Regions from separate parts of the Homo sapiens genome. Here region 2 is linked to region 1. The links come from fine-mapping of genetic effects on gene expression. A gene starts in region 1. The other region holds a variant in brackets. All regions are shown on one strand. Distances are between the middles of the regions. Region 1 holds the start of KLF5 (KLF transcription factor 5). Region 2 overlaps PIBF1 (progesterone immunomodulatory binding factor 1).

Evidence for each region.
Region 2: its variant is fine-mapped to the expression of KLF5 in monocytes after R848 (Quach 2016, PIP 0.95).

Annotation. Positions count from the first base shown.
Region 1 is chr13:73,050,988-73,066,326 of GRCh38, forward strand. It overlaps KLF5 (KLF transcription factor 5), which reads left to right and starts at 8,018. Exons shown (of 4, transcript NM_001730.5): 1 at 8,018-8,601; 2 at 10,874-11,747; 3 at 12,837-12,896. The coding sequence starts at 8,341. RefSeq lists silencers at 7,762-8,371, 8,692-8,781.
Region 2 is chr13:72,963,709-72,979,047 of GRCh38, forward strand. It overlaps PIBF1 (progesterone immunomodulatory binding factor 1), which reads left to right. Exons shown (of 18, transcript NM_006346.4): 15 at 1,566-1,696; 16 at 9,883-9,967. Among named protein-coding and RNA genes, the nearest start is that of KLF5, 88 kb to the right of the region's middle. The variant T/C (reference allele first, on the strand shown) is at 6,632.

The DNA.
Region 1 (15,339 bases):
TCCACCCACCTCGGCCTCCCAAAGTGCTGGGATTACGGGCGAGAGTCACCAGGCCCAGCCTGAGACTGGGTAATTGATAAAGGAAAAAGGTTTAATGGACTCAGAATTCCACATGGCTGGGAAGGCCTCACAGTCATGGCAGAAGATGAAGGAGGAGCAAAGAGACTTCTTACACGGTGGCGGGCAAGAGAGAGCTGGTGCAGGGGGAACTCCCCTTTATAAAACCATCAGATCTCATGAGACTTATTCACTATTACAAAAAACAGCACGGGAAAGACCCGTTCCCATGATTCAATTACCTCCCACCGAGTTTCTCCCACGACACGTGGGAATTATGGGAGCTACAATTCAACATGAGATTTAGGTGGGGACACAGCCAAATAATATCAATGATGTATGTATTCAAAGAAAGGCATTAGAGTTGGAGGGAACCGAAGGGGCTTTTGGGAAATTACAAATAATCCAAACGGTTAGAGCCTAAGGTTCATGGGAGAAGAGCAGGGGAGGGATAGTGAGATACGAAGTTGGGAAGATAGGCTGGGGTCAGCACAAGGTCCCAGGCTGAGGAGTTTGAACTTCCTTCCTCACTGAGGAAAATAATGAAACATATCTGAGAAGCAAGGTTACCTATCATCTGAGAAGCAAGGTTACCTATCAGGCGATGCTTACAGTGCTTAGGGCAGGGACTATATCTTATTCATCCTTGTATTTCTTTTTTTTTTTTTTTCTGAGATGGAGTCTCTCTCTGCCGCCCAGGCTGGAGTGCACTGGCGTGATCTCAGCTCACTGCAAGCTCCGCCTCCCGGGTTCACGCCATTCTCCTGCCTTAGCCTCCCGAGTAGCTGGGATTACAGGCGCCCATCACCACGCCCGGCTAATTTTTTGTATTTTTAGTAGAGACGGGGTTTCACGGTGTTAGCCAGGATGGTTTCGATCTCCGGACCTTGTGATTCACCCACCTCAGCCTCCCAAAGTGCTGGGATTACAGGCGTGAGCCACCGTGCCCAGCTCATCTTTTTATTTCTAAGACCTGCAACAGTGCTCTGCATAGAGCACTGTTGAACAGAGTGTTCAAAAAATGTTTGCAGGCACCAATGCTCCGAATAATTTAGAATAAAGACTGGTGTATATGTATGTTTTATGTGTGAGTTGTGGTCACGACAGTGGGGAGCTGGGGGGTGGGAACGGGTCCTTAGAAATTCAGCCGTCTACTGAATATTTAATAGAAAATGTTTTATTTTTGAGACAGGGTCTTGCTCTGTTGCCCAGGCTGGAATGCAGTGGCACAATCATGGCTCACTGTAACCTCAAACTCTTGAGTTCAAGCAATCTTCTTGCCTCAGCTTCCCAAGTAGCTGGGACTACAGGCGTGTGCCACCACACCTGGCTAGTTTCTTCTTTTTACTCGTTGCAGAGACTGGGGTCTTGCTATGTTGCATAGGCTGGTCTTGAACTCCTGGCTTTAAGCAATCCTCCCACTTCAGCCTTTCAAAGCATTGGGATAATAGGTGTGAGCCATCTTGCTGCGCCTCTAGAATATGTTTTAAATATCAAGTTTGTAGACTACCATCCCCACCCTCCTTCCACTTTAATTTCTGAAATCTCAGTAACCAAATTTGGGAATAACTTTTGAACAACTTTATGTTCCGGAAAAGAGAACAAGGCTCTTAGAGAAACAATAGTATGAGCTGGGCATGGTGGCTCAAGCCTGTAATCTCAGAACTTTGAGAGGCTGAGGCAGGAGGATTGCTTGAGCTCAGGAGTTCGAGACCATCCTGGGCCACACAGAGAAACCCCGTTTCCACAAAAAATAAAAAAATTTAGCTTGACGTGGTGGGGCCTGTGGTCCCACCTACTGGAGAAACTGAGGTGGGAGGATCACTTGAACCCAGGAGGCTGGAGCTGCAGTGAGCCATGTTTGTGTCACTGCACTGCAGCCTGAGCAACACAGCAAGACCCTGTCTCAAAAAAAAAAAAAAAAAAAGCGAGAGAGAAAGAAAGATAACATCCCATTTGAAACTATTTCATGCCAAATCTTCTATGTGAGTATTTTAGAATTTAAAAACCCAAACACAAACACCTCTTTAAAGATGCATATAAACTTTACCTGGTTTTAAGAGTCTATGCATTTTGTCAAATCAGTGTAAGCAGCCTATTTTATTTAATATGAGAAAACAGAGCAACAAAGTAAAATGAGATACCCAAAATAACAGAGTAAAAATAAGTGTAGAGGAAGTCTTGCTGATCACTTAGGAAATGAATTAAAGCATATTTATATTTCAGACATTCCCTATATTATCCCTTTTGAACTTCAAACTCCCCTTTGTAATCTCTCTTCAGCTTCTTCATTCTGCAGTGAAATTCCTGAAAATCTAGCAGCTTGGTTAAGAAAGTTTACATGTTTTCCCAGTACAGAGTATTGGCAAGTTGTAGGTACACTTTACTGGCTTCAAATGGAAAATCATTTGATCATCAACTACTTCAGTTCCAACTAACCCTTAGCTGTAGAAAGGTAATATTTATTTATGTTTTCATTTAAACTATTTATTCTGATTACAAATGGAATACATAGCAATTGTAGAAAATCTAGAAAATACTGAAAAGTATCCAGAAGTGAATAATGACCCATAATTTTTTTTTTTTTTTTTTTGAGATGGAGTCTTGCTCTGTCACCCAGGATGGAATGCAGTGGTGCAATCTCAGCTCACCGCAACCTCTGCCTCCCGGGCTCAAGTGATTCTCCTGTCTCAGGCGCCTGAGTAGCTGGGATTACAGGCGCACGTCACCATGCCCGGCTAATTTTTTTACTTTTAGTAGGGACAGGGTTTCCCCATGTTGGCCAGGCTGGTCTCGAACTCTTGACCTCAGGTGATCTACCCGTGTTGGCCTCCCAAAGTGTTGGGATTACAGGCGTGAGCCACCGCGCCCAGCAGTAACCTATAATATAACCATCTAACGAGGGCCACCAAAATACATCCATGTTTGGTATTTTCTTTTCATCTTTGTGGGTACATATTTATAAAACCCCTTTCTTTGACTATACATAGCATGAATGTTTTCCCATGTCACTAAATGTTCCTTAATAATAAGAATTTTTCCCCTTTTTTTCCAACTACTCAACTTTTTGGTGGCATAACAGTAGCCATGGTATGGATGTATTGCTTAACTACTCCCCTAATGTTGGACACCTAACCTAGGTTATTTCCAATTTTATTTTAATTTAAATTAATTATTATTATTTGAGACAGGGTCTTGCTCTGTCACCCAGGCTGGAGTGCAGTGGTGTGATCATAGCTCACAGTAACCTTGAACTCCTGGGCTCAAGTAATCCTCCTGCCTCAGCCTTCCAAGTAGCTGGGACTACCGGCATACATCACCATGCCTGGTTAATATTAAACATTTTTGTAGAGATAGGGTCTCACTATGTTGCTCAAGCTGGTCTCCAGCTCCTGGCCTCAAGCAATCCTCCCATCTTAGTCTCCCAAAGGGCTGGGATTATAGGTGTGAGCCACCATGCCTGGCCCAATTTTATATATAAAGATATATGTGTGTGTGTATATATATATATATATGTGTATATATATGTGTGTGTGTGTATATATATACACATACACCTTTCCTAGAAGAGGAATTATCTATCATTTTCAAAGTTATTTACATTTTAGCCTTTTTCATACTTATTGTCAAATTGTCCTTCCCCAAAGTTTTAAAGTTTACACAACCATCAACAGTGTATGGAAGTTAAGGCATGAAGAACTCACATTGCTTTTAGCACTACTTTTACACACTTCATCTATAAATCAACATCTAAAAGAGTATTTCCGTGTGACCCATGCACGGTTCATTTGAGCATTCACAGGGTGTTCCCCACAGCCTGGTACATTACAGCTTTTGTCATAACATGAACAGCAATCGGCTCAAAACACTGCCCATTGTGATGCTGATGATGAGACCTCCCTAATGTTCTAAAAGATTGTTTGGTGTAACCACTTTAGCTCAGACCTTTCTTTTAACCTTGCCTATCATGTTTCGAGTCAGAATTTAAATACTGTGCAGTTTAAGCTACAATACGCTTGGCCTATAACTTGGTTCCAGGCATTTATATTTATGTCACTTTTGTCTACTTATTATACTAACAAGGTGGAAAAAGCAATCCCAGTCTCTCCAAAAGGTAAAACTCTCCTGTTTTTTTGGATATTATTAGAGTTTTAAAATTAGGCTAGATAAATTATAGTACCCTTAGGAATAAGTGCATAAAGGGAGTTTTATGAAATATTTTAAGAAGAACACATTTAAAAATCCAAACTGAAATATAAAATGTAATTTCTTAAGAACTGGAGGCAAGAGACATTACAAAAATAAAATATTAAATTGTTGTCTTAAGACATAATTTTAATTAATATAAATAGAAGTATTTAGTCTTATTTAAACTGCATATTTTTTCATCACAAAAGCAATGAACAGAGCATCTTCTCTCTTGTCTCGTAATCTTTTGAGTCAAAATGCTTTAAATTCCAACTAATCTCAGTTGAAGCTTCTATTTATCAGGCTATTTCCTTAATGACTTTTTTTCTGATGTGTGGCTTTAGGTGGTTGCCATTAATGAAAAAATACAAAGACTACAGATGTGAAATGTTGGAGAGGACAATAATTACAATAGTTTTAAGTTTTCACTGATACAGATTCTAACAGGGGTGTGCAATCAATGACTACCAAAAAGTCACTTTAATTAAATAATCTTACCCTAGAGAAGAGTGTGCTCCCGTATAAAGCTTTATTTTTCATTTTTATTCTTGTTCTTTTTTCTGTGGCCCAAGATCACTTGGCAATTTGATACTGATTTGGCAGAAATAAATATTCTATGAATATTTTTCTACTCAAAGTGAATACAGTTTTGTTGGCTGTGATACTCTATACCTCTTAATTTCAAGCTGTGACGTTTTTGCCAAACAACTGAATTTAGATTTGCCAAACAACTGAATTTAGATATTCCTTTTGCCGTGTCGTTGTGTGAACATTGCCCTAGTGATAGCTTCATATTTCCCTCATCTCATCATTCAGAAGCTATTTATCTATTTTTTTCCACTGCCTCCTTCAAACCCCCTCCCCCAACATTGAATGCCTGTTCAGCCCCCGCATATTCATCCGTATTTATTCCCGTAAAGATAGTGACACTTATGGTTTATTCTAAGACTAAATCTGTGTTGCCCAGTGACTAAGGACTTAAGCATGCACACTGCTTCTATGCTTACCCTCCTACCTAACTTGACTACTCAACATTTTTATTTCATTCCCTCAGAATCCCCTGTTTTGGCACAGTTCAGTTAACACACCACTGCCAGGCCACTAATTGATTTCTGAAACCTGACATTTGTTTTTTGTTTTCTCCTATCTTCCCTAATGGTACAGCACTACTAAGCGGGAAGGAATGCAAAGAACTAGAAAGTTCAAAGTAATTGAGGATCTGTCCATTCACACTGTCTGGCTTCAAGCCAATGTAGAACCTGGAACATTTGAAAAATATTTATCAAGTTTTAACCCTTTTTACTAAGTCGGTGAAACAGGTTTGCAGCTGTAGCATTTATGTTAAAAGCAACAGCAAGGAAACTTGGTCGAACATGTTCTTTATATGTTCAGAATCACATGGCAAATGTCTCCGAAAAGGATTACTTTCCAATTTCCGTACTATTGTACAGTGCTAAGCTAGTTATTTTCTGTGAGACTGCAGAGCAGGGCATTTCAGAGAAACTATTACTTAAAAGTGGCAGCCCTATTTCATGAATCTTTATGCCCAAAATGGAATTTTAAAACCTGCTACTGTATTGGAGCAAAAAGGAATATATTCAGTTACTATAAGAACCCCAACGCTAGCTTCATATCTATATTATGAAAAGTGGAAATATGAAAAATTAACAAGACTAAAAATATTAAAAACTTAGTTGTATGGTTTTTTTTTTGCAATGAAAAAGCTTTTGTAAATGAAAGCATGTTAAAAAGTGGTGTGAAATTATAGAAGCATTTCCAGTAAAATACATGGATTTTATTGCAGTGAAAACTTAGGTTGAAAGACCGGGCCACTGAAGCTCTCGTAAAAAGACAAAAGGAAAGGTCTAGATAGGTTTAAAAGCACATTAAGATACAGCTACCGAATGTATTAAATCTAAGTTAGATTTAGCTTAAAGTTACAAGAGCACAAAAGTTCTATTAAGAATTATCTACATCACATTTAGGTTTGATGTTATCAGAATTAAGTAACTAAAAATCTTTCAAAGCTCAATTTTTTAAAAGAGTTACATTAAATCCCATCCTAATTCTATAATCTGTTTCTAAGCTAATTAATTACATGATAGGTTTTACATTAGAGAAAAGCAGGACAGCTTTTTAAAGATGAAGATGGACAGCATGGGGCTGCTTGGTTAGAGAAAAACTTGCAAAAGCACTTATTAAATAATACTTTGATAACATGAAAGTAGTCATCAGCCATTCTCTGAAGGCAGTGATCACAGCTATAAAAATGAATCATGTGTCAACAGGAAGAGAAGGAAAAGGAGAAAAACCCAGTTTACAGCATAATTTTATATTTTCTAATAATAAATACATTTCTTTATGTGCATATTAATTTTCTACCCATTGAAAATGAGATCCATACCTTTGATAGATACACTCTTTGAAGTGAACGTTTTTATCCAAGACTTTTTTTTAAAGCTGTTTTACTCTGAAGTGATGAATAGGCTGTGGTATATGTAAAACTGTCTAATGGTATATTGTGTGTCAACATATGTACATTTGTAGTAATATCACAGGCATTTTTATTGCAGTTTATTGTTCCGTCCTCCCAATAAGCCAGATAAAATCATGTACAAGAACATTAAGGATTAAGGGAAGTGGTTTCCTTAGGTGATTGCTGGCAAAAATTCACCCTCCCATTATAACAACATAGTAAATGGATGGTAATATATTTGGCTATTACTTTCCAACAAATTTGGATTCCCAGTTTTCAGAGCTGCTCTGTGTCTATGTTTGCGGCTTTTTGATTGTCTCTTCGTAGGAAAAGGTGCCACAATGTGAGGTAAATGTGCTAGGTTTCTGCTTTGTAAATATTAAAGTCCATTTTTTGAACATACAGTGCTAGCAAAAATAAGTCAAAGATGTAATGTCTATTTAAATACACGTTTGAGCTAGTCGTGCTTAAATTAGATTCCATGCTTCGGCTAGAATCAACACGGCTTAAATATTAGAAACTTCAAAATTCATATGGCCCAAGCCCTCCTCCCCACACACGGATGGGAAGTAGAAATGTGTGGGAAAACGTCTAGCAATTAAAATCCTGAAGGAGTGGGAAAAACCCAGGCTTTTATGCAAGGATCTGAAAAAACGCTTGCCATCAAATCTTTTATTCAGGCATTCTGAATTTGCCTTGTTAAACGGATACACTCACTGCTAAAGATACACAGGGACAAGAGCTGTTTTAAATTTGTTTATCACACCGCCCCTAGTTTTCTGCTAAAGAGAAGTACATTTTGGATATTTAAAAGTACACACTCATTAGACAAATCTCTAAAAGCCTCAGCGCCCCTACCTAGCTGCCTTCTGGGTTTCAGCTTTTGAGTTTCAGGTCCTTGCACAACACCTAAGACGTGCAATACTCTTTTTCTTCCTAATCCTGGCAGAGAACAGTGCGAAGAGATCTCCCTCCGCGTCTCCACCCTAATTCCCCCTCTTCCCAGATTCCACCCGCTCCGCTACTTCCCTCCGCCCCCGGCTCCGCCAGCCCAATCTGTCAGAGAAGTTGTGTACAAACTGCGCGGCCGCCCTGCGCGCGAAGCTCGTGGCCCGAGAGGGGTGCGGTCGGGCCGACGGAGGCGGGGCCCTGGCTGCCTCTCTCCCTGCTCATAGGCTGGCCGCTCAGGCCTGGCCGGCCTCGGGGCCTCGGGATTCGCGGCGGCGCTGCCAATCAGGCGATCGGGCCCCGCCCCCCCGGAGTTGGGTGAAATAGAGGCGGGCGTCAAGTGTCAGTAGTCGCGGGGCAGGTACGTGCGCTCGCGGTTCTCTCGCGGAGGTCGGCGGTGGCGGGAGCGGGCTCCGGAGAGCCTGAGAGCACGGTGGGGCGGGGCGGGAGAAAGTGGCCGCCCGGAGGACGTTGGCGTTTACGTGTGGAAGAGCGGAAGAGTTTTGCTTTTCGTGCGCGCCTTCGAAAACTGCCTGCCGCTGTCTGAGGAGTCCACCCGAAACCTCCCCTCCTCCGCCGGCAGCCCCGCGCTGAGCTCGCCGACCCAAGCCAGCGTGGGCGAGGTGGGAAGTGCGCCCGACCCGCGCCTGGAGCTGCGCCCCCGAGTGCCCATGGCTACAAGGGTGCTGAGCATGAGCGCCCGCCTGGGACCCGTGCCCCAGCCGCCGGCGCCGCAGGACGAGCCGGTGTTCGCGCAGCTCAAGCCGGTGCTGGGCGCCGCGAATCCGGCCCGCGACGCGGCGCTCTTCCCCGGCGAGGAGCTGAAGCACGCGCACCACCGCCCGCAGGCGCAGCCCGCGCCCGCGCAGGCCCCGCAGCCGGCCCAGCCGCCCGCCACCGGCCCGCGGCTGCCTCCAGAGGACCTGGTCCAGGTAGGAAGAGCCGCTCCCCTCCCACCGCAGCACTCCCGGGCTCGGGCGTGTCCCGTTGCTGCGACTCGCGGGCGACAGGGGCCGCTCCAGGCTGGGGCGTGCGTCGGGGCGCACCGGAGCCGGTGCTGGGTGGGCAGCCCCGCCCTGCACGCCTGGCCGGGGCCCCGCGTTTCGCTGAGAGTAAATGGGGGGGGGGGCCGGGGGTGGGAAGGATGGAGGGGAATCTGCCCCGGCGGGTCGGCCTGGGAGAGGTAAGAGGGAGGGAACTGGGTGCTCACGCGCACCTTAGTTGTTTTTCTTACACTTGAGGGACGAAACCTTGTACCTTACGCTCAGTTTTACTTAAATTACGCCTTCGCCTGTACCGCTCTCCAATGCCAAGGCATTGGAGCCCTCCCCCCCATCCCCATCGTCTCGGGTTAAGTAGAAACGCAAATTGGGGTGCTGGGGAGAGGTTCCCCAAGGTTTCATACCCGGTGGCTCAACCTGCTTTAGAAGCGATTGCGGGCCGCGTTTGGAAAATGAGAGTTAGGAAAGCTAAGGTTGTGTCGGAGCGCTTATTTTTCCTTAAAAAAAAAAAAAAAAAAAAAAGACCGGGGGTGTTGTTTTCTTCGTGTGCACGTAAATTTCCTCCCGGAGCCGCGTTGAAAGCTGGCAGTTGGCTTTTACACTTGCCCAGCAGCCGAATTAGAGCAACCGCCTGTTTCTTTCGCCCACGCAGGGAGTCATATAGCCCAGAAAAAACTTCCCGGGACTTTTAGCCTGTCCCAAGGAAAAAAAAATTGGAAACATACCCACATGCAAACAGCTGGAAGAGCTAAAATCAGAAACCACTAACCGCCGCGGGAGCGCAGTGCACGAAAGGGTTTAGTTCAGTTTATTTCAAGACACTTCATTTAGTAGCTCTTTGGCGTGTCGTATATTTGCTACCCAGCGCCTACTCCGTGGGGTCTGCCAGGGTCTTGCTGTGAGAGGGCAGTGGCGTTTGTCAGAGATGTGACTCACATGATGAGAGCGTTAATTTTTATTTTTAAATCATGTCTATCCGGGAAACCCCGTCCGCATCCACACCAAGGTCCGAGATGAAACGCATTTGAAATGAAGTAGTAGCAGAAAATGACTGTCTTATTTACCTGTTAAGGTGCCACAGCTAATATATGCGCCATTCCATCTAGTTGGTTTTCTTATCTTTCGAAATTTCCTTTTCAGTGTTAAAAAATGTAGGCTTAAGTTATACTAGGAGAGAAGATAGCTGGAAAAGGCTTGAGGCGACTTGTTACAAGCTGGTTTATAGCCTAGAAAAGAGATCACCGTTTGAAAAGTATTTGGTTATTTCAGTTTGTCAATTTTCTGCTCTGGAGGCACTAAGAAGATAAGGGATGACTGAGCTTTTTACAGAGTAGGGGGGAATGTAGCATTGGCCCACTGAGAAGGACATGATAAATGTTTTGCTGATGACTGTGCTAGGGATACAGCAGCCTCCCCACCCACGGGCTCCTTAGCAGCACTCTACCAAGGGAGTGATTTTCCCCTAGGTAATTAAAGATCTGTTTTAGATAGGGATATGAATAGGAACATTTCATTATCATATTAACCAATTACAGGATCTGCTGATGAAAATCAACATTTAGATCAAATATTGAATGTGAAATTGTTTTGTTTCAGTGGATACAAGGTTTTGCTTAGAACGTTGTGTTTAATTTCTCATTGAACTGTAAACAAGAAAAGACACTGAAATAGCCAAATAATATTTTTATATTACTTTTGAAGTATCTAGTCAAGAAAAGAAACCTGTGCAATATTTTAAAGGTTTGCATCGTTTTTTCTATTAAAAAAAACCACGCTTTTTAATGTTTGTGACTTAAACAGAATTGAGGTAGTTTGGCAACATTTCAATACTGTACTCTAATTGCAAACTTAACTGTGTAATGGGGCAGGGAATCCTGCTTGTACAGGGGTGATGGTACCTTGTTATTGCATCAGAATGGAATGTTTTAAGTTTGCTTTCTTTTTTATTCTTGATTTGCGTCTTTCACTTTTGGGGGTGATTGGGGGAGCAGTTTTACCAGTTACACAGAGTTTCATAAGGTTTTGGTCAACCAGTTATTACACAATCGACAAAATAAGCCTGATATGTTTATAAGCAACACTGAGGAGTTTGCCCTAGTACCTTACACAGGGATTGGGGGAATTTTTAGTAGGCGCCGATTGTTCGTTCTTCCCGAGATGGTGAATCAGGTGGATTATGCATTTTATATCTCTTCTTTTTTAGACAAGATGTGAAATGGAGAAGTATCTGACACCTCAGCTTCCTCCAGTTCCTATAATTCCAGAGCATAAAAAGTATAGACGAGACAGTGCCTCAGTCGTAGACCAGTTCTTCACTGACACTGAAGGGTTACCTTACAGTATCAACATGAACGTCTTCCTCCCTGACATCACTCACCTGAGAACTGGCCTCTACAAATCCCAGAGACCGTGCGTAACACACATCAAGACAGAACCTGTTGCCATTTTCAGCCACCAGAGTGAAACGACTGCCCCTCCTCCGGCCCCGACCCAGGCCCTCCCTGAGTTCACCAGTATATTCAGCTCACACCAGACCGCAGCTCCAGAGGTGAACAATATTTTCATCAAACAAGAACTTCCTACACCAGATCTTCATCTTTCTGTCCCTACCCAGCAGGGCCACCTGTACCAGCTACTGAATACACCGGATCTAGATATGCCCAGTTCTACAAATCAGACAGCAGCAATGGACACTCTTAATGTTTCTATGTCAGCTGCCATGGCAGGCCTTAACACACACACCTCTGCTGTTCCGCAGACTGCAGTGAAACAATTCCAGGGCATGCCCCCTTGCACATACACAATGCCAAGTCAGTTTCTTCCACAACAGGCCACTTACTTTCCCCCGTCACCACCAAGCTCAGAGCCTGGAAGTCCAGATAGACAAGCAGAGATGCTCCAGAATTTAACCCCACCTCCATCCTATGCTGCTACAATTGCTTCTAAACTGGCAATTCACAATCCAAATTTACCCACCACCCTGCCAGTTAACTCACAAAACATCCAACCTGTCAGATACAATAGAAGGAGTAACCCCGATTTGGAGAAACGACGCATCCACTACTGCGATTACCCTGGTATGTGCTCTTACCTGGTTGAAGCATCAATAGATGTAGTGTGTGTGTGTGTGTGTCTGTGTGCGCGCGCGTGTGCGTGTGTGCACGCGCGTGCCCTTTTCAACCTCATGGCTTTAAATAGGAAAGTTGTACTTGACAGTAAAAAAAAAAAAAATTACCTTTTTTTTTTTCTCTATCCTATCTCTGTGCTTTAACTTTGGTATGTAAACCAGTTAGTTGTCTGTTGCTTATGTTATGCATCAAAAACTTGGCTAGAATATTCTGGAAAAAGTTCCCTTGGATTTTTTTTTCTTTAATATTAAAACAGATTTGAATTTCTAATACATATTATTTCGAGTTAGGCCAGAGTTACTTTAAAATGGCAATTGAATAAATTGCAGTTTTTAATTCTAAATTAAGTGCCCCAGAAAGAGATTAAAGTAGGGTGGGGGAAAATAAGGTTTGGTGGTGAAGTGGAGGTTGCAGGCAGCTAGCTTGATGTTAGGTACAAGACTGTCTACAAGACAGATTTAAGAATGGTTTTGATGGCACGTGAGCATATGCTCAGTTTTGAATGACATACATGGCCCAAAGTATAAGTTGAAGACAATACATGGAATATATTTACAAGTTACTGGGAAAGCTAGTTTATGATTAATACATGGCAAAATTTATTGACTCTGATACATGATATGGCATGACGTGCTAAATGAAAAAAGAAGAAATGTGGGAGTACAGAAAATTACAGTCATCTTGGATAATGGCTTAGTACTGTCAGCTCTAGAGCCATTAAAATTTTTAAAAAAACATATAGCAGCTCTTAATACGGAAGTACAGCACCTACTGGAATATAAACACAAATTTTCCATTTGTAGTTTGGCTTGATTATCTGTATTCTTTCCTGTTAAAGTGATACATAAAACAAATCACTTCATGCCTTTAATAAGGTAATGGGGGAGGGCTCTTTAAAACTTTTAAAACTGAAGCTTCAAATAATCTCATCTAGCATGAGAGATTTCTTCTTTAAAGCCAGATTTTAAACACTGAATCATCAAATGTAAAGATTTCAAAAGGATCTCCAAAATGACATGCTGTTCTCCTTTATTTTAGGTTGCACAAAAGTTTATACCAAGTCTTCTCATTTAAAAGCTCACCTGAGGACTCACACTGGTATGTAATTTTCTTGTTAATTCTGTGAGTTGTGTAAATAGTGTAAGTGGTATTCATCCTTTTAAAAGCTAACACGTGTTTGATCTCTTCTCCTGTCAACTTTGTTTTTTTTTTTTTTTTTAAATAGCCTACCTTTTCAGCACAGGCTTGGTTCAGAATTCAGTTCCATGAGAAATCTGGTTCCAGGAAGGCCGGTGATGTTCCCTCACTAAGGCCTTCTTGCCCTGTCACCGCTCAGAGTTGATTACCCAAAAATGTAAACAGCGATGTTTACTAATGGATTTTAAAACTTATACTGGCAGTGTTTTGAAGGAAAAAAAACAAAACAAAACTCATTTTCTTCCATAGCAAATAATTTTGCTCTGAGAAAGCCATTTTAAACTCTTAAAAACTTTCCCATTTGGAGTGTACTGCATAATTGGTGAAAACGTTAGTTTCACCTCTAGGTTAAAATATCTGTGTTTAGTATGTTTTCTGTGCTTGATGAAAGGTAGTGCTGAAATTGCAGTGTTAAAATCAGGTGGTCAGAAATGGGTTACAAGCCCCAGCCTAAACTTGGTATGTGTGAGAGACTTGATCTTTATTCTAGCTTACATTCATTCTTGTTTACATATGCTTTTAAGTTTAGCTCCTCTACTTTTGTATTTGCTTTGTTCAATCTATAGCAGTCACTTTTTTTGAGATGGAGTCTTGCTCTGTTGCCAGGCTGTAGTGCAGTGGTGTGATCTCAGTTCACTGCAACCTCTGCCTCCCAGGTTCAAGCGATTCTCCTGCTTCAGCCTCCCGAGTAGCTGGGATTACAGGCCCCCACCACCATGCCCAGTTGATTTTTGTATCTCTAGTAGAGATGGGGTTTCACCATGTTGGCCAGGCTGGTCTCCAACTCCTGACATCTTTATCCACCTGCCTCGGCCTCCCAAAGTGCTGGGATTACAGGCGTGAGCCACCGCGCCCGACCAGCACTTTTAAGAGCTTTTAAACTTTAAAATTATATCAGAAGCCATTTTAAGATGAAACCAGGTGGCATACTTTAAAGGCCCCCCAAATACTCCAAATATTGTCAAATATATAGATGGTTACTATTTGCGATTTTCTTAAAAGAGCAGCCCTAAAGAAAAGAACTTATATAAAGTGATTGTGTTTTTTTCCCTCAATAAATACAGCCTTACCTAAAGTTCAGAGAATAAGTTTGCTAATAAAAGCAATGACCTAGCAAAATGTATTATTCCATCATTGCTATGGAAACCAAAGTATTCAACAGTTCCTTTGAATGGGTTGTTGGATTAGTGTGAGGACTTGAATCTCCCGAGGCTAGATGTTACTATGGAAATTGAGTTTTGATAAATGAAGTAGTTATCTCTAACTGCTGCATTAAAAAGTAAAAGCCTTTGAACAAAGGTCAGTGCTGAGGTAGAGCCCTAAGAGGAATATGGTTGCAGACATTTTGTATGCATGTTAGGAAGCATTGCTTGATATCCCAGTGATAAACACTACTTACTAAAATCCGATGACAATGTTGTAGATTCCAGGGCTTTTTGAGAAACTGCTTTTAAGGAGAAGGCATCTTATGTATTTATCTATGAAATGAGCGGGCTGTTTTGGCCTGAGGTTTTTGCATGGAGACAAACTGATTACATAAGAGGAAGGATCCTTCATAGGCAGCCCAAGGTAGAAATTTTTATAGTTAAACACAAATGAATTAAGCATGTTATAAAAACTCCAACTTAAAGTTTTCAAAATACAAATGACAAGTGCCAGGAAAATATTCCATGTAGAAATACCAAAATGTCCTTTTACAGAATATAAATGGAAATATAAAGACATTTGAACTATTGTTTTTTTCACTTTTGGAAGTCCTTGAGAGATAGGAGGGAACACATTTTCCTGGGTTTAAAGTCTCCTAATAAAAGAGCACAATTGCATATAACGATGTAATCAACTACTTATTGCAGGGATGTAGTCAAACCCATATCTGAATAGCCTTTCACCCCGTCAGGGTTTAGTGCCCTGAATGCTTATACCTGCGATTCAGGAACTTGACCTGCCGGCAAATACATTTAATCGTGGGTTGTCTTAACAATGCTTGTACTAATAAAAACAGACTGAAAAGAAGACCGAGACCTGGTTTGGGTCCCTTGCATCAGCTTTTTCACCTGACCATAAACATTGTGGCCTTCAACATCTAATGAATGAGAACATGTAATCCAGTTTAATAAAGTTTTGTTTGATAGTCTTTCAAATGCCTTGGGGAGGGTTTGTAGCAGACTTGTTCATCTGGCTAAACCTGTTCTTGGGTAATCATAGAGCATTGAGGTTGTTTTCTCCTCATTTCTCATTTCTAGACAATGCCTTTTAAAATTACCTGTTCTCTCATTGCATCCTCCCCACCCTGCCCGCCTGTTGTTTTTAAATGAATGTATCTGAAGCCAGCAAAGGTGTTTTT
Region 2 (15,339 bases), 87 kb before region 1:
TATAGAGAACTCCTACAACTCAGCAACAACAACAAGAAAAATCACAATTAAAATACAAGCAAAAGACTTGGGAAGACTTCTCTCCAAAGAAGATATACAAATGCCCAGTATGCACATGAAATAATGTGCTTTGGCCAGGATGTGGAGAAATTGTAATCAAATTTCTTGCTGGTAGGAATGTAAAATGGTATCACCACTGTGGAACCGTTGCAGTTCCTCAAAAAGTTAAATATAGAATTACCATATGACCTAACAGTTCTACTCCACTTCTAGGTAGCTACCCAACAGAAGTGAAACAAGAACTCAAGATATACAGTATTTGTCCACCAATGTTCATAGCAGCATTATTCACAATAGCCAAACAGTGGAAACCCAAGTATTCATCAAGAGATCAATGGATAAACAAAATGTACTATAAACATACAGTGGACTATTATTTACCATTAAAAGGAATGAAGTTCTGATACATGATACAACATAGATGAACTTTGAAAACGTCACACTAAGTGAAATAAGCAGACAGCAAAGGACAAATATTGTGTTATTCCACTTATGTGAGGTATCTGGAATAGGCAAATTCACAGAGACAGAAAGTAAGATACAGGTTTCTAGGGCCAGGAGGGAGGAGAAAATGGGGAGTTTTTGTTTAATGGGTACAGAGTTTCCATATGGGCTGATGGAAGTGTTCTGGAAATAGAAGTGGTAGCTATTCAACATTATGAATGTACTTAATGCCACTGAATTGTACACTTTTCACATGATTAAAATGGTAAATTTTACATTATATTTTAAAACACATTTGTCAAAAATTTATACATAATGATTTGGATATATAAATTATGTATTTTTAAAACAAGGGAATATGAAGAAATGAAAAAATTATTGAATTATGGTGTGAATATTTTTAGTAGAAGTAAAGCTGAAATAAAAGAGTTTAACTTTTAGCTAAGTGTTTCCATTTTAAAAAGATATATTTTATGTCATATAGCTTTTCAGACCAAGACAAATACTAAGAAAATTTAAGTTTATGCATTCTCAAAATTGCTATTAATATTTTATTTAAAATTTTTTCAGCCAGGCGAGGTGGCTCACACCCGTAGTCCCCGCACTTTGGGAGGCTGAGGTGGGCGATCACCTGAGGTCAGGAGTTCAAGACCAGCCTGGCCAACATGCTGAAACCCCATCTCTACTAAAATTACAAAAATTAGTGGGGCATGGTAGCAGGCACCTGTAATCCCAGCTACTCGGAAAGCTGAGGCAGGAGAATCACTTGAACCTGGAAGGCGGAGGTTGCAGTGAGCCGAGATCGCGCCACTGCACTCTAGCCTGGGCGACAGAGCGAGACTGTCTCAAAAAAAAGAAAACAAAAAAAATTATTGTTTATAGTTGCTATTAAGAATAGCTATATTGATTCACTCTTAAAACCTTCAAATTTACACAGGAAAAGCTTTTCAGAATAATTCATGTCAAAGGAATTTCTGTACTATATTTGTGCTAGAGCATTTTGAATGATTTTATTTTGTTGTCACATTTTCTAGATTTTAATGAAACCTGTGTTTCTTTAGCTTGACAGAGCCAATTCGCTATTAAACCAGACTCAACAGCCTTACAGGTATCTCATTGAATCAGTGCGTCAGAGAGATTCTAAGATTGATTCACTGACGGAATCTATTGCACAACTTGAGAAAGATGTCAGGTAAACCATCTACAAATCTTTTATTTGAATAATAAAGACATTGTTACCATATTGCTGCTGTAGGTGAATTTGGGTTGTAAATCATGAACAGAAAATTTAAATAATGAAGGTGTCTTAAATGTAATGAATATTAAACTTTTCTTAGAAAAACTAAGGTCACATCACATCAGGTGTTCACATTCCACCTGTGATCAGATGTCTTAGCATGGAAATAACAATGTTACACTTATGAGCATAACATTCCATCTATCCTAGAGGACACAACCGCTATTGGTCCTTGTTTCCCTAGAACTCTTTAGTGTGGTGTAGATTGACCAGAGGGAGAGGAGGAATAAAACCAGATGCCATTTGTGTCGTTAAAATGGCTTTTTAAACAACAACAACAAAAAATTTACATTTACTTAGATTTATGTTGATTTTTCCAAGGAATTTTTAGGCTTTTCTTCTGACCTTTTACATGAAAGTAACTTTTAAGTGTAAATAAATAAATTTCTTTCACTTCCTTAATTTGTAATTGTTTCTGTATGAGATCTTATCCAAAAAAAATTTGCTATGACCAGTTTGGTTTTTTAAACTGAAATTAAAGAATGAAGATATGTGTAAATGAAACAGTTTTACTTGTGGATAGATGGTTAGTTTGCTTAGTTACTAGATTTCCAAGATTATAAGAATAATTTAGATTTTTATGGGTAAATTATTAACTGATTATCAATGTAAAAGCAGAGAATTAAGTGGGAATAGAAATGGTTAAATCAAGGAATTGGAAAACAATAAGGAGAAGATGGTTGTTAAATCCAGGTTTCTTAAAGTATGCAAACAAAAATATAAACCTATTGGTAACTAATTCCAAAGTATAAATGTTATTTTTAATGAATCACAGTAATTACCTTCTTTCATTTCTACCCCACCAAAATAATTGGTCTAGAACTTTATTCCTGTTCTTAATTTTTTATGATTTGTTTAAATAATTTAGGAGCACATTTATACCTTAAATGTGTCAAAATAAATAAGTTTGTTTCTAGATTAATTTTAAAGTTAAAAATTCTGTATACAACCTACAATAATAAATTAATTGTTCTATAAATAGTTCTTGGGGACAATAGAAATTATGTCTTTCACAATTCACTGGGCACCTGATTATCTTAGGGAAATTGAAGAAAGAACCCCAAATAGAATTTTTTCCTCCTATGTTACATATTTCTGTTAAATTTGAATATTTTTTGGCCAGGCGCAGTGGCTCACACCTGTAATCCCAGCACTTTGGGAGGCTGAGGCAGGCAGATCACCTGAGGTCAGGAATTCTAGACCAGCCTGGCCAACATAGTGAAACCCTGTCTCGACTACAAATACAAAAGTTAGCTGAGCATGGTGATGCATGCCTGTAGTCCCAGCCACTCTGGAGGCTGAGACAGGAGAATCGCTTGAACCGGGGAGACGGAGGTTGCAGTGAGCTGAGATCATTTCACTGCACTCCAGCTTGGGCAACAGAGTGAGACTCTGTCTCAAAAAAATTAAAATTAAAATTAAATTTTGAATCTTTTTTTTTTTTTTGAAACGGAGTCTCACTGTCACCCAGGCTGGAGTGCAATGATGTGATCTCTGCTCACTATAACCTCTGCCTCCCGGGTTCAAGTGATTCTCCTGCCTCAGCCTCCTGAGTAGCTAGGATTACAGGCACACGCTGCCACGCCCAGCTAATTTTTGTATTTTTAGTGGAGACAGGGTTTCACCATGTTGGTCAGGCTGGTCTTGAACTCCTGACCTCATGATCTGCCCTCCTCGGCCTCCCGAAGTGCTAGGATTAAAGGCATGAGACACCATGCCCGGCCTTAAAATTTGAATCTTTTATATGTCTTATTTTACCATTATTTCTTGTGATGAGGAGGTATATAAAAATCCTGAGGAAAAAAATTACTCCTTTCACAGTTATCTCCAAACAAATTTATTTGATTATTTATTTTACTAAGAATTAAGGTAGCTTAAAATGTTTAATATAGAGAAAATAATAGCTAGCTGTAGGAGAAAATTATAAAGATGAACAAATTCAGCCATAGAGAAATTAAGCAACTTGTCCTCTAAGAACATGCAACATTGTGATAGAGTAAGAATTCAATTTTATATCTGTCTGCTTGCTAATTCTATTCTCCTAACCATTAGGTTATACTGCCCCTCTATGTTCTATTCTGAATAAGGGATAATATTTCTTTAGCTAAAATAATTAAGGAAGAGAACAAAAAAGTAGTGTATCATAGTGATTAAAAGTAGCACTTTAATGAGTTGATCGTTGTTGAAGCGGGGTGATAGATATATCAGGGTTTGCTATTACATATTTTCTCTTCTGAAATATTCTATAATAAAATTTTTTAAAAAACAGATTTTAAAAGGAAGTTTTCAAATTCAACTCAGTACTTAGTTTTGAGTTAGGGCAAGTAATTTAAACTCTCTAATACCTCTGTTGTCCAATAGAACTTTCTATAATGATAAAAATATTCCATATCTGGCTGGGCACGGTAGCTCAAGTCTGTAATCCCAGCACTTTGGGAGGCCGAGGCGGGCGGATCACGAGGTCAGGAGATCGAGACCATCCTGGCTAACACGGTGAAACCCTGTCTCTACTAAAAATACAAAAATTAGCCGGGCGTAGTGGCGGGCGCCTGTAGTCCCAGCTACTCGGGAGGCTGAGGCAGGAGAATGGCGTGAACCTGGGAGGCAGAGCTTGCAGTGAGCCGAGATTGCGCCACTGCACTCCAACCTGGGCGACAGAGCCAGACTCCGTCTCCAAAAAAAGAAAAATTCTACATCAGTGCTGTCCAGTATGGTAGCCACTAGCTAGCCACATATAGATGTTGAGCATTTGTTTTGGGGTTTTGTTGTTGTTGTTGTTGTTGTTCTTTTTTTTCTTTTCTTTTCTTTGAGACGGAGTTTCACTCTTGTCACCCAGACTGGAGTGCAATGGCGCGATCTCGGCTCACTGCAACCTCCACCTCCCAGGTTCAAGCGATTCTCCTGTCTCAGCCTCCCGAGTAGCTGGGATAACAAGCACCCACCACCACAGCCGGCTAATTTTTGTGTTTTTAGTAAAGATGAGGTTTCACCCTGTTAGCCAGGGTGTTCTTGAACTCCTGACCTCAAATGATCCGCTGGCCTTGGCCTCCCAAAGTGCTGGGATTACAGGCATGAGCCACCACACCCAACCTGAGCATTTGAAATGTGGCTACTGTTACTGAGGAACTAAATTTTTAATTCTATTAAAATTAAATTGTTTAAATTATCTTTAATTTTATTTTTAATTTTATTAAAATTAAAGATAATTTTAATTGCCCTAGTGGCCAATGGCTGTGGTATTGCACAGTACAGCCAGTTTCCTCATATGTGAAATGAGAGTGGTGCCGAGGCAGACAGATTGCCTGAGCCCAGGAGTTCGAGACCAGCCTGGACAACATGGCAAAACCATGTTTGGTTTTGTCTCTACAAAAAATACAGAAAAATTTGCCAGTGTGATGGCACGCTTCTGTAGTCCTGGCTACTCAGGAGGCTGAGGTGGGAGGATGAGTTGAGCCTGGGAGGTGGAGGTTGCAATGAGCAACTGCACTCCAGCCTGGGTGACAAAGCAAAACTCTGTCTCAAAAAAAAAATAAAAATAAAAATAATGAGAGTGGTCCTAACAGCACCCGATTGATAGGGTTGTTCTGAGGAATAAATGATATAATCTTCATAATATACACAGATATAATAGTGCCTAAACATTATATTCAACAGTGTTCAATAAATGTTTGCCATTCTTAGTACTTACCATACATGTAACAAATTTTTGGTTGAAAATTATATTAAAAATGAGAAATAACATTTCTCAAAATATGTTGAATTTCAACAAAAATTAAGACTCCCTTAATAACAGCAACGGTTTTCATAAAGGCCATGTCATTTATGGAATTAATTACCAAGAAAAATTTTGTACTAAACATGAGTCCTTTAATGTTGTCTTGTGTTTCATAAATTAATTGTGTGATATTTTAGTACATTCTGAACTGATAATTCACAGGATATGAAATCTTATTCTTAATTGAAGCAACTACCTTCTAAAGTGAAAAGTTATTAATACTTTCAGTAGTTTAATTACAACACTTGAGATGTTGCTATAGGTGTACCCTGGTGACATGAATGAAATGCTGTGATGTAACAATGCCATTAAAAAGTCAGCTCAGCCAGTAATTCAGATATGGTAGGATAGATCACAGTTCTGTATACCCACATTCCTTCATCCCTACTCGAAGCAAATGGCATTTCAAATCCTAGAGTGGAATTATCCTGGGCTTTAAATACACATCAGGCTGGTTTCTCTCCTTATGGTAAATGTGTCTGTAAAATTAGATATTAATATGAACCCGAAGGGGTAGTTGTGAAAATTAAATTTAGGGGCATATATAAAGCTTTGGCATGTAGGAGAATCTCAGTAAATGTTACTTCCCTCCCCTTGTCTTTTATTTGAAATTTAAACATTAATGATGGCCCATCCAAAAGCGTTATCAAGTTATTATGTTCCTTAGAAAACATAAACAGGAAAATTCCTATTCCTCATTGCTAGGTGTTGATGTTAGTTGTAAAAATATTTACATCAATTGATGATTTTTAAATGTTTTTCTAATTCAATAAAAACTCTTTGAAGAACTGAATAATTGTATGCTTTTCTTAGAAAATTAAACAATACCACTATACCATACTTACCCCTTGAAAATCAACTATTTATACAATATATTCAATTTCTAGAAAGGCTAGAGTAAATATTCACTAAAATGAAATCATCATAAACACATTAAAAGCTAACATTTGAGATGTCACTATTAACTGCTTTAAATTCTCCTATCATTAAAGTAATACTTTATTATAAAAATAGTACTGTTAACTTTCTTCCACCAAGCCACAAGAGACACTCTG[T/C]GTAATACAGTTTGATCTCTACTTCAGAAAGGAAGGAAGCTTGGAAAGAGAATAATTAGCATAATTTTCTTTGCCTGTTGTCAGTTCTCAGTTTATTCTTAACTGGTAGTTAAAGATAAGACTACATTGCCAACTTCCCTTACAAAGCTATCCCAGAGTGTATTGATCCAGGAAGTTAAGGAACAATATATCAGGAATGTTTTCGTATTGCAGGTGAAACAGAGCCATAAACATGAATTTCTAAGTAATAATTAACAGTGAATTTAACAATTATGGGTGTAATATACCATTCAAGATAGATGTGCTTACAAGGAGATTTGTTTTGTAGTTGTTTTATGAGTCACTCATAGAAGCTTTGTATTTTCAAAGGTAAGTTTCCACTGTTATGAAATATGTCTTATGAAGACTAAAATTCTATTGAGTAAATACATACTAGAAGAAGAGTGAATATAATAATCATCATATTCAGTTTTAGAGACCCACATGTTAAAGGTTGTCTCCCTGTGGTTCGAGTATATTATAAAGAAGACAAAATATATGCCCAGATATTGTAATCACAGCAATATTGTCTGGGAAGTCCACATTGTTTGTAATAAACTCATGTCTTACAGGTGCAACATAATTGTTCTGTAAGCCAGTTTATCCCCCCACCATTTATTCCATGTATATACGGTTGTTTTGCTATTTAATTATAGAATACTTTATTTTTGAAAAGTTAAAACACGACAATATAAAAGCATTTGTGAAGAATTATCCAGTCAAAATCCTTTAATTACCTCGACATTCCATTCCGATTACACTACATATTCTTTAGAAGAGCCAGTTGGTATTTGAAACAGAGAGTGAGTGTGTGTGTGTGTGTGTGTATGTGTGTGTGTGTGTGTATGCACTGAATGTGAGTATATGCTTATATACCGTGGTTATAAGTGTATACATGTATATGAACATAGACACATACATGTTCCTTAAAAGTTCCTAGTCCTATTTACTGGATATTTAAATTTGAAAAATATTTTGCCTTCAAAGTGATTCCAGCTAAAGAGGTGGTTAGAATTCTAGAGTTAGAGAAACATGTGATCCTTACCATGCTTTGGAGACTCTAGCAGAACATGGCACTCAGTTTCCTTTATACTGTTTTGTTCTTTTCAACTCCTCAGCTCTTGTGGGATCTCTGGCGCCTAACTCTAAAAGTCAGTTTGTTTTTCAGCTGAGCTGCTTACCTTTATTGGCATTTAATTACTGTTTTACTCTGATGCCTATTTTTTTATCTAAATTAGTAACACTGTATAACATTTATATAGTTTTATGAGTTCAACACTTTATATAATCATTCACATAGTCCTTTGACATACATGAGTATTATGTTCTACTTTTACAGATATAAAAACTGAGGTTCAGTGGGGTGGTATGTGTTATGCTTTACAGCACACATTTGAGTCTGAGTCAGTGGCACAGTTGGGAACAGAAGTCAAAATTGCATCTAGTCCGTCTCCTCAGAGGACAAACTATGATGCTTCCTTCTCGATTACTTGGAAGGAGAAGAATGTGGGCTTTCCCTCTTAAGTCCTTTGAATTAGCAGTTGCTGCAGATTGCCTACTACTGTTTCTTGAATTAAAAAAAAAAAAAAGTCTGCCAAATATTATTCTAAAGATTAGTGGCTTTCATTTATTTATTTATTTATTTATTTATTTATTTATTTATTTATTTATTTTTTGAGAGAGCCTCACTCTGTCTCCCAGGCTGGAATACAGTGGAGCATCATAGCTCACTGCAGCCTCAAACTCCTGGGCTCGAGCGATCCTCCTACCTCATGCTTTGATGTAGCTGGGACTAAAGGTGCATGTCTCCACACCTGGCTAACATTTTTTTTTTAAGAGATGGGGGTCTCTCTGTGTTGCCCAGACTAGGCTCGAACTCCTGGGCTCATGCAGTTCTCCAACCTCGATCTCCCAAAGTGCTAGGATTACAGGCATGAGCCAGTGTGCCCTGCCTCCATTTTCTTAAAGTAGAACTTAAGTAGAACTTTAAAAATGTTTTTACCGGCCAGGTGCGGTGGCTCACGCCTATAATCCCAGCACTTCGGGAGGCCGAGGTGGGCAGATCACGTGAGGTCAGGAATTCGAGACCAGCCTGGCCAGCATGGTGAAACCCCATCTCTACTAAAAATACAAAAATTAGCCGGGCATGGTGGCACACACCTGTAGTCCCAGCCACTCAGACAGCTGAGGCAGAAAAATGAGTTGAACCCAGGAGGCAGAGGTTGCAGTGAGCCGAGATCGCGCCACTGCACTCCAGCCTGGGTGACAGAGCGAGACTCCGTCTCAAAAAAAAAAAAAATGTTTTTACCTATTTAAAACAATTCTTGTTAGTTTTACCCTCACAAATTTTGTCTTTTTTATTGTAATCATTCATTAGATAATTGCCACCATGCCAGGCCAGAAATTGAAAATCAAACTAATAATTTGGAGACAAACGTTCTTTTTTCAAGTTTATCACAGACTAAATACCTGATTCACTTACTTAACTCAATTATATACCTGATAATTTAGTTTGTAAAATATTACTTTCAGTTTTAAGGATGTTTTAATTTGTCTTCTAGTATCTTGTGTTGTAATAGTTTGCTGACATAGTACTTCTTACCTTTTATGTGAGTTTCTTTATCTTTTTACATTTTAGTAGTAAATAGTCATCTTTAAAACATTAATTTTATGCCTATACTAGGCAGGAAATTATTCTCAGACAGCATCTCAGTTACGTTGTCAAATGGATTCTTAAGAGAAGAAAAGCTGGGTGCAGTGATGTATGCCTGTAGTCCCAGATACTTAGGAGACTGAAGCAGGAAGATTGCTTGAGCCCAGGAGTTTGAGGCTGTAGTTCATTGTTACCATGTCTGTGAGTAGCCACTGCACTCCAGCCTGGGCAACACAGCAAGACTCCATCTCTTTAAAAAAAAGAGAAAGAGAAAGAAAAGAGGAGAGGGAAGAAAGAAAAGAAAAAAGAAAGGAAAAGAAAAGAGGAGAGGGAAGAAAGAAAAGAAAAAAGAAAGGAAAAGAAAAGAAAAAGATCTTCTGACAAAATAGGCCATTCATTGGGCCAAACATTTTAGTGGCTGGTCTGGAATATTTATGGACTATAAATTTATCTTTAGTTCAAACCATCAGATTCATGTTTATTCTTTTAATATTTACCATTTATTAACTATATTTATACTAACATAATGACTTTTTAAAACTGGGGTTTTTTTTTTCAGCAACTTAAATAAAGAAAAGTCAGCTTTACTACAGACGAAGAATCAAATGGCATTAGATTTAGAACAACTTCTAAATCATCGTGAGGTATTTTTCCTATTTTGTCATAATTGTAATCATTTTAGGCTTTTTTAAAAACTGCTATCAGGTTAAAATTATTGGATCCCAGTTGTGCATGTTCATTAATGACTTCTCTTATTTATGTCTCACTGTAATTTTGTCCTTTTTTATTCAACTTTTGATATACTTCTTAGAGTTAATTCTTATTCCTAGAATAACCCCTTCTTGTTGTGTTGATATCTGTCACTGAATTTCCCCATATTATTTAATAATAATCTGTTTTATCTTATTCTGCAACTAGACAGTTAATTTCCTTAGTGTGCCTCTCGTCTTCTTTATCAATGTATGCCCAGTGCCTGTAGTGTAGATAATTTGTGTTGAGCTTTAAAGTTCATAAAATTATTTTCTTTTCTTCATTTGTTCCCTACCAAAATTCTTTTAGAGTAAATATAATTCCTATTTTATAGATGGAGAAATGAGTTTTAAGTGGCTTGCCCATGGCAGTTAGTAACTAAGAGATAAGTTCTGTTTTGTTTTGTTTTTTTCCTTTAAGGTTTATTGAGTTATAATCTACAAAGAATAAAATTAACCTTTTTTAGCAGACATGTCTGTGATTTTTGACAAATGCACACAGTTGTGTCAGCACCACCACAATCAATATATAGAATAGTTCTATTACTCCACAAAATTCCCTCATTACCCCTTTTTAGCTGACCCTTTTCCTCAACCCCCAGCCCTATCAACCACGGGTGTATTTTCTGTAACTATTGTTTACCTTTTACAAAATGCTATAAAAGTGAAATTATCAGTATATAGCCTTTTGAGTCTGGCTTTTCTCAGTTACAATAATACATTTGCAATTCATATATATTGTTGCAATACAGATGTATAATATATTGACCTCAAGTGATCCGCCTGCATCAGCCTCCCAAAGTGCTGGGATTACAGGTGTGAGCCTGTACATACATCTACATTAGTCATATGTTTCCTTTTTATTGCTGAGTAATAAGCCATTATATGGATGTAACCCAGTTTGTTAATTCATTCACAGTTTATGGACATTTGAGTTGTTTCCATTTGAGGACATCTCCGAATAAAATATCTGTAAACAATTAATGTACACATTTTAATATAAACAAAAGTTTCCATTTCTCTTGGGTAAATACCCAGGAACATGATTACTGCATTGTATGGCAGGTGTATGTTTAAGTTTATAAGCAACTGTCAAAATTTTCCAAAGTTACTATACTTTTGCATTCCCCCTCTACGATGAATGAGAGTTCCAGTTTCTCTGCATCGTCACCAACCATTGGTATTTTTAACACAAAGCCTTTTTTCTACTGAACTATCACTGCCTCATCTTAGCCATCTTTTTACCATTTTGTTATTCTAATAGAAAAAGAAACTTTTTTTTTTTTTTTTTTGGAGACAGGATCTTGCTCTGTCACCCAGGCTGGAGTGCAGTGGCATGATCTCGGCTCACGGCAACCTCTGCCTTCCGAGTTCAAGCGAATCTCTTGGCTTAACCTCCTGAGTACCCGGGATTACAGGTGCATGCCACCATGCCATCTAACTTTTGTGTTTTTAATAGAGACTGGGTTTCGGCATGGTTGGCCAGGCTGATCTTAAACTCCTGACCTCAAGTGATCTGCCCGCCTCAATCCTCAAAGTGCTGGGATTACAGGTGTGAGCCACCGCGCCCGACCAGAAAACAAAACATTTAAAACATATCATTGGTTTATGAGTATCCTGATACTAGTCTGGGAGAGGTATACCAGATGTTGGGAAGAAATTATTGGGAGAATATTGTTGAGAGAGGGGAACTGGAAACTATTACTGGAAGCAGTTCAAAGGTACGTATCCTAGAGATGGTGTCAGAAGAATTGGAGGATTGTCTGTATCTGAGAAATGGCATTGGAGTGAGTTCTCTTAAAGGTGTCTTCTATGTGATGGGTGAAAAGGATGAGAAAGTGTCCCAGGACTAGATTGTAATGATAACATTTAGGAAGGTAAGTCAATCTAACAACAGGTTACAGAGCTAGGAAAAGCTTCTCTGAAGATATTTATTCTTTCTTCTGAGTTCGGACATTCTAGACCTTATCCATCACCGCTGCTGTCACTTATGTCCTAGGATTCTGCTTTCAAGTAATTGTTTCTTCACTGTGGAAACCTGATTCATTCACTATGTGGAATTTTCGCAAGTGTTTTTGAAATTAAATATTTAAGAGTAGTAACTACAGATGACCATTCAGCCATATCAACTACATTTTTTTAAAGCTAGATATTAATTTTTTTTTCAGAATGGCAATTCTCATTTGATTTTAAGGGGATGTGCTACACTGAAAAATATATGAGCAGTTCCAACACTTGGAATCACATTACTCATGAGTCCAAATAAAAACCAAAAAACTTTGCGTGGTGGATTGAGAAGAAAATACGTTTAAGCATGCAAATTAAATTCTAGCAGAGCTGGGCACAGTGTCACACACCTGTAGTCCCAGGTACTCTGGAGGCTAAGGCAGGAGGATCACTTGAGCACAGGAGTTTGAGACTATAGTGCACTCTGATCTCACCTGTGAATAGCCACTGCACTCCAGCCTGAGCAATGTAGTGCAACCCTATCTTTTAAAAAAGAAAGAAAGAGAAAGAGGGAGGGAGGGTTAGAGGGAAGGAGAGGAAGAAGAAGAAGGAAGAAAGGAAGCGAAGGAGGGGAGGGAAGGAGGGAGAAATTTAAACACTAGCAAGATGAAACTACTCATTAATTGCCTACTACTACATGTTATTACTGGTATTTGTATGGATGCATATTTAGATAATTGTCAGTTTTTATGTATTTGACAGTATATCTTTATTTTGGCAAGTATGTTTTAATAATTTAACATTGTATAGCTTTTGATGATACCAAACATCTAAAGAAAAGCAACTTTTTTTGTTTTAAAGCAAAGTAAAAATTAAAGCTTAGTAAAACAAATCTAATGTTATTAATCATTTTCTAAGAAACCATTTACTACCAACTTACATCATATATACACATGCAAAGGCCTCCGCAAATTGCATATATGGAAAGAAAACAGCTGGTGTGACCCCCTAGAAATGCTTGGCCATTCACTTGAACATTTACCTGATGAAACAGGATTGATTTATTCACTTGATTGTTCAGAGGATCATGTCCTCATAATAGTCAATAGATAACATTGGTTAAGAATAATTCTGATTTTTTTTTGAAAATGAAAATCAGGGCTGGGACTAGGGTGAGGCAAGCAAGGCATCTAGGACACATGATGTAAGGAGGTGCCTACTCTCAGAGTGGGCAAAGAACATGGACGGCCCCTGGGAGCCACTGCTTCTTTACCTAAGGCCGCTAGCTTGTCTCACCCTGGTCAATACCCTGGGAAAATTATCTGATACCAGTCTGGTTTTAATCAGTTAAATTTGGACAGTGTAAATGAGTGATTCAAAAAGAGACCAAATGAACTTTTTAAAGTTTCTTATTTTCTTTTTTGCATTGGACAGCTCTTGCTTTAATGTTGTGTTGTTTTGTTTTGTTTTGTTTTGTTTTGTCTTGTTTTGTTTTGAGATGGAGTCTTGCTCTGTCACCCAGGCTGGAGTGCAGTGGCGCTATTTCGGCTCAGCGCAACCTCCACCTCCCTGGTTCAAGCAATTCCCCTGCCTCAGCCCCCCAAGTAGCTGGGATTAACAGGCGCATGCCACCACACCTGGCTAATTTTTTTGTATTTTTAGTAGAGATGGGGTTTCACCACGTTGGCTAGACTGGTCTCAAACTCCTGACCTCAGGCAATCCACCTGCCTCAGCCTCCCAAAGTGCTGGGATTACAGGCATGAGCCACTGCACCCAGCCTAGCTCTAACTTTTTTTAGCAGTGTCACTTAGTTCTGATTAGGCTGTATGTGTTCATGTAATGTGAAGTAAGATCACCAGTTCATTTACATAATTCCAAAATATGTGTTAAACAGAAAAAGCAAGTAGGACAATTCTAGGTTGACAATTCAGAAACATTTGGGGCATGACCACAGAGAGTTTTTATTTTCTATATTAGTGTTAGCTCAAAAATATTAGCTTAAAAGTATCTTCTCTCATGTTAAGAGTTAGGGTGTGGTGTGACAATTTCCAGGAATGTGTATTGATCTCTTACAATTGAGTATTTCTTGAACTATGAGTGGAATATTAGGTGATGTTTAGTCCTAACTTTTTTTGCGAGAAAATATATTCAACAACTAATTTCAGAATGATATAACGTGAAGAGCAGGTGGCCGTAGAGAGAAATAGGATATTTTAGGTTGACTTTTCAGACTACAAAGCTCAACTGGGTTGGGTAAATATATTAGGTTAAAGGATTTACACAACAAATACTAACTTAAAAATGTGCATAAATTGAATTGAGAGCTTATACCTGCCCACACTTCTCCATTCTAAATTCTCCAGGTTTTGTCCCTATATTCAGTAAAATGTTCATAAAGCAGAGGGGGAAAGGGCAAAATATCTCTCCTCACAGAATTTATTTTATTAAAGAACAGTTTAATGTCATGCCTTCTGCTTTTGTAGAAGATCAAAACAAAGTGTGATCTCTCTTGGTTTTGTAAAACTAAGGCAGTCTACTAAGTACATCCACATAAATGACATAATCTAATCTTTACTACAGTCCACTGATAAATATCATTGTCCTCATTGTTAGAGATGAAACTGATGCTGATAAGAGTTAAATAACTCAACTGTGATTACGTAGTCAAAACTAAAAGTAATTCATTTTTTCCCTGAAACAAAACTAAGGTTCTTTTTCCTTAGTCTCATTTAGACAGAAAAAAACTCATGATGAATTATTGCGTATATTCCAGGAAAATTTTTGCCTCTGGGCGTGAAGTTATATTCCTCTTTCTTTTTTTCATAAAATGAAAACTTTGTAATTTAATGTGTTTCCTTTTTGTCTTCATTGCCAGAAAACTCAGAGCTGAATATCTTATCCAGGTGTTATAATCTTTTTTTTCCTCTTTCACTTTTGATACCTCAGAATAACTTTATCTGTTTCCTTCAGGTGGGTTGTAATCTATCTTACTCTAAAATGTCTTCACTTGTACTCGGATTAAGACCTCTTAGGTGTAAATAAAATATAAACCTAAATAATTAGATATTGAAAAGAGGTAAAAGGAAAAGATAAACTGATAGGAACTCACTTTTAGATAACAGTAGCAGGACTTCAAATAAAACATTCATTTTGAAAAGATTTGAGTATAAGAAATGTGATTTCAGGCCCGATGCAGTGGTTCACACTTGTAATCCCAGCACTCAAAAAGGCCAAGGTGGGAGGAACGCTTGAGGCTAGGTGTTCAGCACCAGCCTGGACAACCTAGGAAGACCTCATCTTCACAAAAAAATCAAAATTT